2 linked regions of the Homo sapiens genome follow. The protein of the gene in region 1 purifies or fractionates together with the protein of each later gene. This does not show direct contact. Each region holds a gene or a part of one and is shown on either strand. Other genes may lie near its edges.

Region 1 (3,820 bases):
ATAATGTTTTCTGTATAGGTCTAACATGACTTGTAAGGATGACAGGAGATTAATTTCAAGATAGTAAAACACTATGCAAATGTTATTTTTTCAAAAGTTTATGTATGACAATTCTATTTGAAGAAAGTGGAAGCATTCCAGAAAGGATCTGCTCTTGCAGAAGGAAATCCCTAGACAGGACAAGCGGTTGAGGAGTTTCCACCTGAACCAGGCTGTGAGCAACAGGAAGACAGAGAAAGTATCTTCTTTACTTTTATATCCCCAGTATCTGACATGCAGTGTATGCCTAATAAATGCATCCTGTTTTTGAGTAGTATAAAATTTATATTTTTGCCCCTTTGTTTAATGTTAGAGATACTTTTCCATTTATTATGTTGGCTAGCTTAATGTAATTATGATGTAAGATTTTGATCAAATATTTTATATAAGTACAAAGTGGAGTAAACAGTGAAGGGGGTCGTGAAATTCCACATTAACTTCAGATTTAAATATGCTATATTTAACTTAATTTATCCAATTTTACCCTCTGCAAGCCTTTTAATGCTGCGTAAAAAGTTGCCTATGTATGGAACGGCCAGCCGATATGTGCAACTCTATTAGCTTTTCCCTATGTACAGTTTTAAAGCTATTTTCCCTTTAGTGAGCATTAGAATTAAACAACAAATTTCATTAACAGAATTGCCTACAATTATATACTAATGTTATTTTCTATTTTTAGGTAACATAGTTTTATATCAAGAAATATTTAGTTATTTGGGGATTTAGGTACAGATTAATGTATGAAAAGGAGAAATCCTAAAGTTTAGAGGAATGATTATTTGAGGTTAGTGATGCATGTAACTTTCATTAGAATGAGAATCTGTGATGTTAAATACTAATGGATGTATCAGGATTCCAGCATGAACTTCATCACATTTTACTGTAGCTGTAGAAACATAGGCTAATCTCTTATCTTCCCTCTACCTTGGTTTTCGTATCAAGAAAGCTGGGATATTAGTATCTGCCCCGCATTCCTGTTTACCTTCCACATAAGGCTGCTCCATGCATTCATTCAACACACACATTTGACCCTGTGCCAGGCATTCTGTAAGGTGCTGAGATGCAATGGTGAACATGACATGGTCTCTGCCCTAAACGAGTTTATAACAACTAAACCCTTTGTTAAACATCCAGATCTGGGGGTTTAAAATAATAATGGAATCTTTCTCTAAGGTGGCATTGTAGGTTTCTGGCTTCTTAATTTTTGCAAGAAAGAGATTAGTAGCATTAATCACAAATCCAAATAGAGGAAAAAAACAGACAGAGATAGTTAAAAATAAAATTTTAAGATTTTGGAAGGCAAAGTATCTAAAAAAGAGTGAAAATGGTGCCAAATAGAATAAAATCAGTTAACACATGTTCTAGTAACTTATCATTCTTCCTAATTTGTTGCCTTCAGGGACAGTCATTTTAAAATGTAGGTATCTGCCACATTAATAACACTGCATCCATAAAAATATTACTTTATAAAAAATTTGTTTGGGAGATAGAAAAGGGTTTTACACTTACACAAATAGGTTATACTCGAAAGAGCATGAAACTGGGAGTCTGAAAATGAAAGTTGTTGTTCTGGCTCTTCTTCTAACTGGCTTTGTGACTTTGGAAAATTTGCTACTGCCAATTGAAGAGCACTGAGAAATGGGAAGAACACATTCCTGATATTTTATTTATTTATTTATTTATTTTGAGATGGAGTTTCGCTCTTGTTGGCCAAGCTGGAGTGCAATGGCGCAATCTCGGCTCACTGCAACCTCCGCCTCCTGGGTTCAAGCGATTCTCCTGCCTCAGCCTCCAGAGTGGCTGGGATTACAGGCACCTGCCGCCACGCCTGGCTAATTTTTTTGTATTTGTAGTAGAAACGGGGTTTCACCGTGTTAGCCAGGCTAGTCTCAAACTCCTGACCTCAGGTGATCTGCCCACCTCGGCATCCCAAAGTGCTGGGATCACAGGCGTGAGCCACCGTGCCCAGCTGATATTTTAATTTTTTTTTAACGGGAAATGTTAAATTTCTCAATGTCAGCTTGCTCCTTTTTTTCAGGAATCCAAAACATAAAGTAAATTCCCATTACACAATTTATTAAAAATAGCAAATTTCAGAAGGAAATGTTTAAATAAATGGCTATGCACCACGAGTATTTCTCAAATGTATTTTTTATGAGGATAATATAGATGATATATGTGACACTGACAGAAGCTACAAGCCACTAGCAATTTTCAATTGCTCTTGGGTGAAAATCCTCAATGATTTTAAATCTCGAATTTGAGTTTATGAAGATCCCAAACTTCTTACCCATTTCTAAGCTTCTAAGTGACACAGCCACACTCAGTTATCTGGTTTGTGAGGCAAAATTCATCAGAGACTGGAATCGCAGTTTCAATAAAAAAAGAGACCGCAATGGCTGGAGGTCCCAATCTTTGCTTTCCAGCAGGTAAGTCTCTCAATCATCTGGGTGCTTCCCTAATCAAAGAAAGCTAGAAAAACCTTCTTTAAAACTTTGTTCAAATATTGTCACTTATTGAAATATCGAGATTACCTATAGAATGACAAACTATAATTTATCCTTTTGGTTTTTTCAATATAAGTTTTGCAGATTGTCCCTATGAATGGCTGTAAGTTCCCTAAGTGACTGTTGGGTGTAAATTTTGTGTTCATAGAAAAAAATTGGCTTCAAACATCTGCCTTCAGCTTCATAACAATCACTTCAAAACAATTTTTTTAATTATGTTTTAAAAACATAATATTTTCAAATTATAGTTTACAAAGTGTTTCTACATACTATTTTAGTTTCCGTTGTAAAGTTTTTAGTTATAATAAAACACAAATTAAAAAGGTGTAGTTTTCTCACAGATAAATTTATATCCTCATATATTTTTAGGAAACAATATTAAATATAAACTTAAAAGGCTTATTTATTTGAACTCTAAGCCAATTCCATAATTTGTGCTGTTTGTAAATTAAGATTAACTAAAGTTAAATAACTTACATTTTGTGAAGAAAATCAGTTTCATTAGACAGTTTTGAATATTTTAGAGTCTTGTTCAAGATCATTAGCCCATTAAGGAGCACAGCTAAACCTCTTATTCCTGTCCTTCAAGTCTGAGCCTGAGTTTTTCCCCAGCATAATGCTGAATATCTGTATATTGTCTGAAAGAGTTTGAATATTTTTTTGAATATTTATTCTTTCATTGACAGAGAATTTTTGGAGTCACGTCAAGTAAAAAAAAATATATATATATATATGTATATAAAACCTTCACTAATATCACACACATTTGTGATGCTGGTGGAGGTTGTAGAGATCTGAAAATTCTTATTATCAAAAATTCGTATTTTGTCTTCACCAATTTTATATCTACTAAAATTAAGATCATGATTACTGAGAAAATATTCAAATGATTATTTTGTCTTGACAGACTGTTAATTCAAAATGCAGGAGAGTAGTACTCAATTATTTTTAAATTATTAATATTATTTATGTTACTTGCAACATTTCTATCTGATAACCAAGTTAAATATCATACAAGTCTTTCTTTCTCTCAGCTTAAAAGAGAGGATATAACTGCATTCTATGGCATCTGGAACCTCAGTTCTAACAATTTTTGTTTTGAAAGGGTAGGGAAATGAGCATACTGACTTATGCATGATAGGAAAAAAAAGAGAAGTAAGAAAAAAATCCTAAGTAAGGCCTGGCACAGTGGCTCATGCCTGCAATCTCAGCACTTTGGGAGGCTGAGGCGAGTGGATCACCTGAAGTCAGGAGTTCGAGAACAGCCTGGCCAA
Region 2 (4,392 bases), on another chromosome or scaffold:
TATTATCAGCCCTGCTAGGTGGCTGTGTATCTCCACAGCATCTGGAACCAACTATGGTCTTGATAATAATACCAGTTATTATCATAATGATGAAGTTAGTAGCTGAGCCTACTAGAAAGCAGGCATCCTGACCCCCAGGACAGTGCCCTCTTCCCTGCACCACCCTCTGACCCAGTGAGCTACCAGGTAGAGGTTCTTCAGCTTAGGAAGATTGATTCCCAGGGTGCTTTCCAGCTGGTTCCCCCGAAGCTCCACTGTGTGCAGGCTGATCAACTTCTCGGGGTCCAGACCTGTCACCATGTGGATGCTGTTCCCTGGGGAGGAGGGTTTCAAGAGCTCAAAGGGCCACTCCAAATGCTCAGCATTAGAGCCTGAATTTGGGGAGCCTCTAAATCATCCTACCATTCGCAAAGCAGGGTAGATACTGAGGAAGGCCAGCTCCAGACTTAATACCTCTGGAGCCCTGAGGCAAGTGGTGTGGTAGGTAGTCCAAGGTCCTGATGGACATATCCACCTAAGCCTTTGAAGAGTGAATGAAGCAGCTGACATGTCTAATTCCCTCTCCTTCTTCAATTCTTTGCTCAAATGTCATCTTCTCAGTGATGGTTGTCCTAACCAATCTATTTGACATTGCCACCTGTGTCCCCCATTCCTCTTACTCTGATCTATTTTTTCCAAGGCACTTGTCTCCTTTTAACATGCTACATGAATGTACTTACTGTGTTTGTTGTTACTTGTTTGTCTCTCCCAATTAGAATATAAGCTATATGAGAATAGGGACGTTCCTTGTCTTATTGGATCCTATATGGTTAGCATGTAGAACTGTCATAATGAATCATATTGCGTATCTGAATGAATGAATGAATGCAGACTGCCATGTGCCCTAGCCAAGGACCATACTGCCCACTTCTGTTGGCCTCAGGCTAGGAAGGAAAGAATCTTGTGTAGCCCATCCTAAAGACCCACCTTTGAGATTCAGGGTTTCAAGACGAGGATGAGAGATGCCTTCAGTGTCAGTAATCTGGTTATAAGCAAAACTAGCAATCTGCAGGTAGGGCAGTTCATTCATCTGGGCACTTCGCAGCCGATTGCCATCAGCCTTGAGCCAGAGCAGGTGGGTGAGGTAGTTGAGTGGAGACAGGTCTGTCAGGTGGTTCTCAGAAATATCCACATAGCGCAGATGGATGTAGGAGCGCAGCAAGTAGATGTCTGTCAGGTCCCTAGGAGATGGAAGAGGGAGAAGAAACCAGGTTTAGGGTTAAGCACCCAGTGAGGACTGGCAGAGTTGCTAAAGCAGAAGGCAATATGGAGATGGCTTATAATGGGGAGAAGAATGGGCAACAGATGGTAGGGGAGAAGAAGGGTAAGAGAAGGTAGGTGGGTTCTTAACAGTGGGCAGAGAGACCTGTGTCTGTGAAGGACAGAGAACCCATACTCTGAAAGACAAATAAGGGAATCCAGCAGGAATCCCCCCATATACTCTCAATCTCCAATTCCCCAGGTCAGCTTTGATAGGAGAAGTCTCAGAGCTCCTGAAAAGTAAATTCTGTCCTTCCCTTTCCACTAGGCATGAGAAGAGTCAAACTCTCAACCAGAACACCCAGGAATGACAGTGGGAAAGGAGATAGGGGCCCTACAGTCTCACAGTCCTCATCTGGTCCCCCCAAAACGCACCTCTCTTTAACCTCCAGCTTGACATAAGCATGAGCCAGCCCATTGCCTGTCTTACAGAGCAGAGAAAGCCCTTCCTTCATCATGTCCTCCGTGAGGGGGGTGGGCAGCCACTGCAGGTAGAAGTGGAGTAAGGTGTCTCTCCCCTGCCCAACCCCCTCCTTCAGCCCTAGGACCCCTCCTTGTCCAGGCTCTCACTTCCTCAGGGAACTCTTCCCCCTCTTTTCTGTAGTCCTCCCCCTCCTCTGTCTCCTTCTCGTCCTCTTCTTTCTCAGAATCATCCTGGTCTGGCTCAGAGTCTTCTAGATCATCTTCATCTGACATCTTTCTTCCCTCCTGAAAGCTCTGGAGTCAGATAAGCTCAGTCCTCCTCCTGAAAAAGAAGGTCTCATCAGCTTCTGCCAGCCTTCAGCTCCTTCATCGTCATTGACACGTGCCACTCCCATCACCCCCATGACTTCTGACCCACCAACTCTAGGCTTCTTTCCTTATCCCTGTGAACATCTCATTTTGATTCTCAACTCCCACTTCACACTTTCCACTGAGGACCCCCTCCCTTCAGGATGTCACCCACACCCCCAGGCCTTTCCTGTCCTTCACAGTGACTCCAGCTCTCCTCCAGCAGCCGGGTGTCCCTATTTCCTGGGCTTCCCTCTCCCCCATTCTTCCCACCTCCCCCTTAAGCCATGCTCTCCAATCTTCCCTACCAATTCCTCCTCCTCTCCTCTCAGCTCCCATTGCGCCATCCGTAATCCCTGCTCCATTCATTTCTTCTACTTTTCCCTCCCCACTGGGCCAATTTCCTTGGGCCCTCTGGTACACCAGCCTAAAGCGCAGTCTCCAACCCTCCCACTCAATTCGCCTTAGCAAAGGGGCTCAGACCCTGTTTCTGCTCAATCAGAAGCAGTTCTGGAGAGGCCCTTGGTCCCGAGAGGGAAGGACTGTTTAGCAAGCGGGCGAGGGGAAGGAGGGGTTGTGTACTGCTGTTATGGCAACGGGGACGGGGCACTTGGCAACTGCAGCTCGCCACCGTTGAGAGTAGAGCGGCGACTACCTGATGCGCAAATCAGCCGGGGAGGGGATTGATCAGTAGTTGCCTGGTTACCACGCCACTTTCCCGTCCCGGGAACCCGGATGAGGCGCGGAAGGGGCGTTGGGCCGCTAATTGGCTGAGGACAAAAAGAAGTGGGCAGGGCTGAGAAGCGAGAAGAGAGGGGGCGGGGCTAGTCATTACGTCACCCAAGACCTTAAAGGGACCGGACATCTTCAATGCAAAAGTATTGTGAATTCAGGAAAAACTCGTCCTTCGAAGCAAAAAGGGCGGGGCTGCGAGGAAAAGCAAGAAACACCAAGATAAGGGGTCTTTTCCCCTTCCCCCTATAGTTTCTGCTCATTAGTTATTTTCAGGTAGACCTTTGGAAGGTGGCTTGGTGGAGCGGAAGGAGTCCAGACCCAGATACCTTAAGAACTGGGTTGGAGTCTTGGCAGATCTGCATTTGCTAGCTAAACGTACCCAAGACTCTTTGTTATCTGTAGAATTAGCTTAACTATATCAACTGACAGGGATCCAGTATGAGTTATCCTGGACTGGTTTGATGCAAACCTTTTAGTGGGTGGAAGGCAGAAAATTCAACATCTGCCCACTAAAATACTCCTGATCCAACGTTGTTATATCAGTAATCAACAGGAACTGGCATAGCCAAACCCAGGCACTCAGGCCTGTCTGACATGTTGAAGGAGATGAAAAAGATGTTGAGATGCAATAAATATTTCTGGAGAGTTTGTGCGAGACATTATGTCAAACATCTTTACAACTGATATTTAATCTCTGCAACAGTCCTGTAAGATAGACATTTGAAAGAAGAGGATACTGAGGCTCAGGGAGGTTAAGATGACACAATTCCTGCCTGGGGAAAGGGGGATGTTACCAATCTTGTTGTGGAATCTAATGTAAATGAAACAATGAGGTAACCAGGTAAGATGGCATGTGATTCATTGTTAAATTGTGCCCACAGACTTTATATAACGGCAAAGTGGTCTGGTGGAAGATGTGGTGGGCAAGAAATCAGGAAGTATTATATTACCTCCTGCCCAGGGCAGCTTGGAGGAATGTGGTTAATAGGCAAATCTGTTTACTTGGTGTCATGGAACCAGTAGGGACTTTAAAGTCAGAGACACCAGCTTCAAAACCCATCTCTACTACTTAATACCTGTGTGTCCTTCAGCAGGTTATGAAATCTTACTGAGGTCTAATTTCCACAGTCGTGAAATGGGGATTATTAAAACGTCCACCTGTAAGGATTGTTAAGGGATTAAAAGAGATAATGTGGGTAAATCGCCTTGCACTTAGTTGACCCTTAGTAAACATTTTCCTGCTCCTCCCCACCCCTGGCCTGTGTCCTTGGTACTGGGGTTGCTGTGAGGAAAAAGAAATAATAAATATGAACACTCTGAAGAGTGAGATGTGCTATACAAATGAAAGTTATTGTATTGTTGGAGTGTGGAGAAGGGAAAAATCCATGTGGTTTGATGTAGTCAAAAGAAATGGATATGAGTTTCCTTGGCCAAGAAGAAAGAGGAAGACACATTAGATGGGAAGAAAAGTTGTGATGTAAGGGTTAGGAAGGTGTCCTTGAACATACACTTTTGTTATTTTGTTTTTATTTTTGTTTTGAAATAGAGTTTCCCTCTGTCGCCCAGGATGGAGTGCGGTGGAGCAAT

What was found.
Region 2: the proteins of OSTN (region 1) and LRRC23 purify together in Homo sapiens (affinity purification with mass spectrometry; one large-scale study listed by BioGRID and IntAct). This does not show direct contact.

Annotation. Positions count from the first base shown.
Region 1 is NC_000003.12:191,202,180-191,205,999, forward strand, and holds part of OSTN (osteocrin precursor), read left to right. Parts: intron 1-3,820. UniProt on the Homo sapiens protein: Hormone that acts as a regulator of dendritic growth in the developing cerebral cortex in response to sensory experience. Induced in the brain following membrane depolarization and inhibits dendritic branching in neurons of the developing cortex.
Region 2 is NC_000012.12:6,903,237-6,907,628, reverse strand, and holds the start of LRRC23 (leucine-rich repeat-containing protein 23), read right to left. Parts: upstream 2,808-4,392; 5' UTR 2,554-2,807; intron 2,045-2,553; 5' UTR 1,996-2,044; coding exon 1,870-1,995; intron 1,785-1,869; coding exon 1,675-1,784; intron 1,221-1,674; coding exon 967-1,220; intron 315-966; coding exon 184-314; intron 1-183. UniProt on the Homo sapiens protein: Essential for sperm motility and male fertility. Plays an important role in the proper assembly of the third radial spoke (RS3) head and the bridge structure between RS2 and RS3 in the sperm flagella.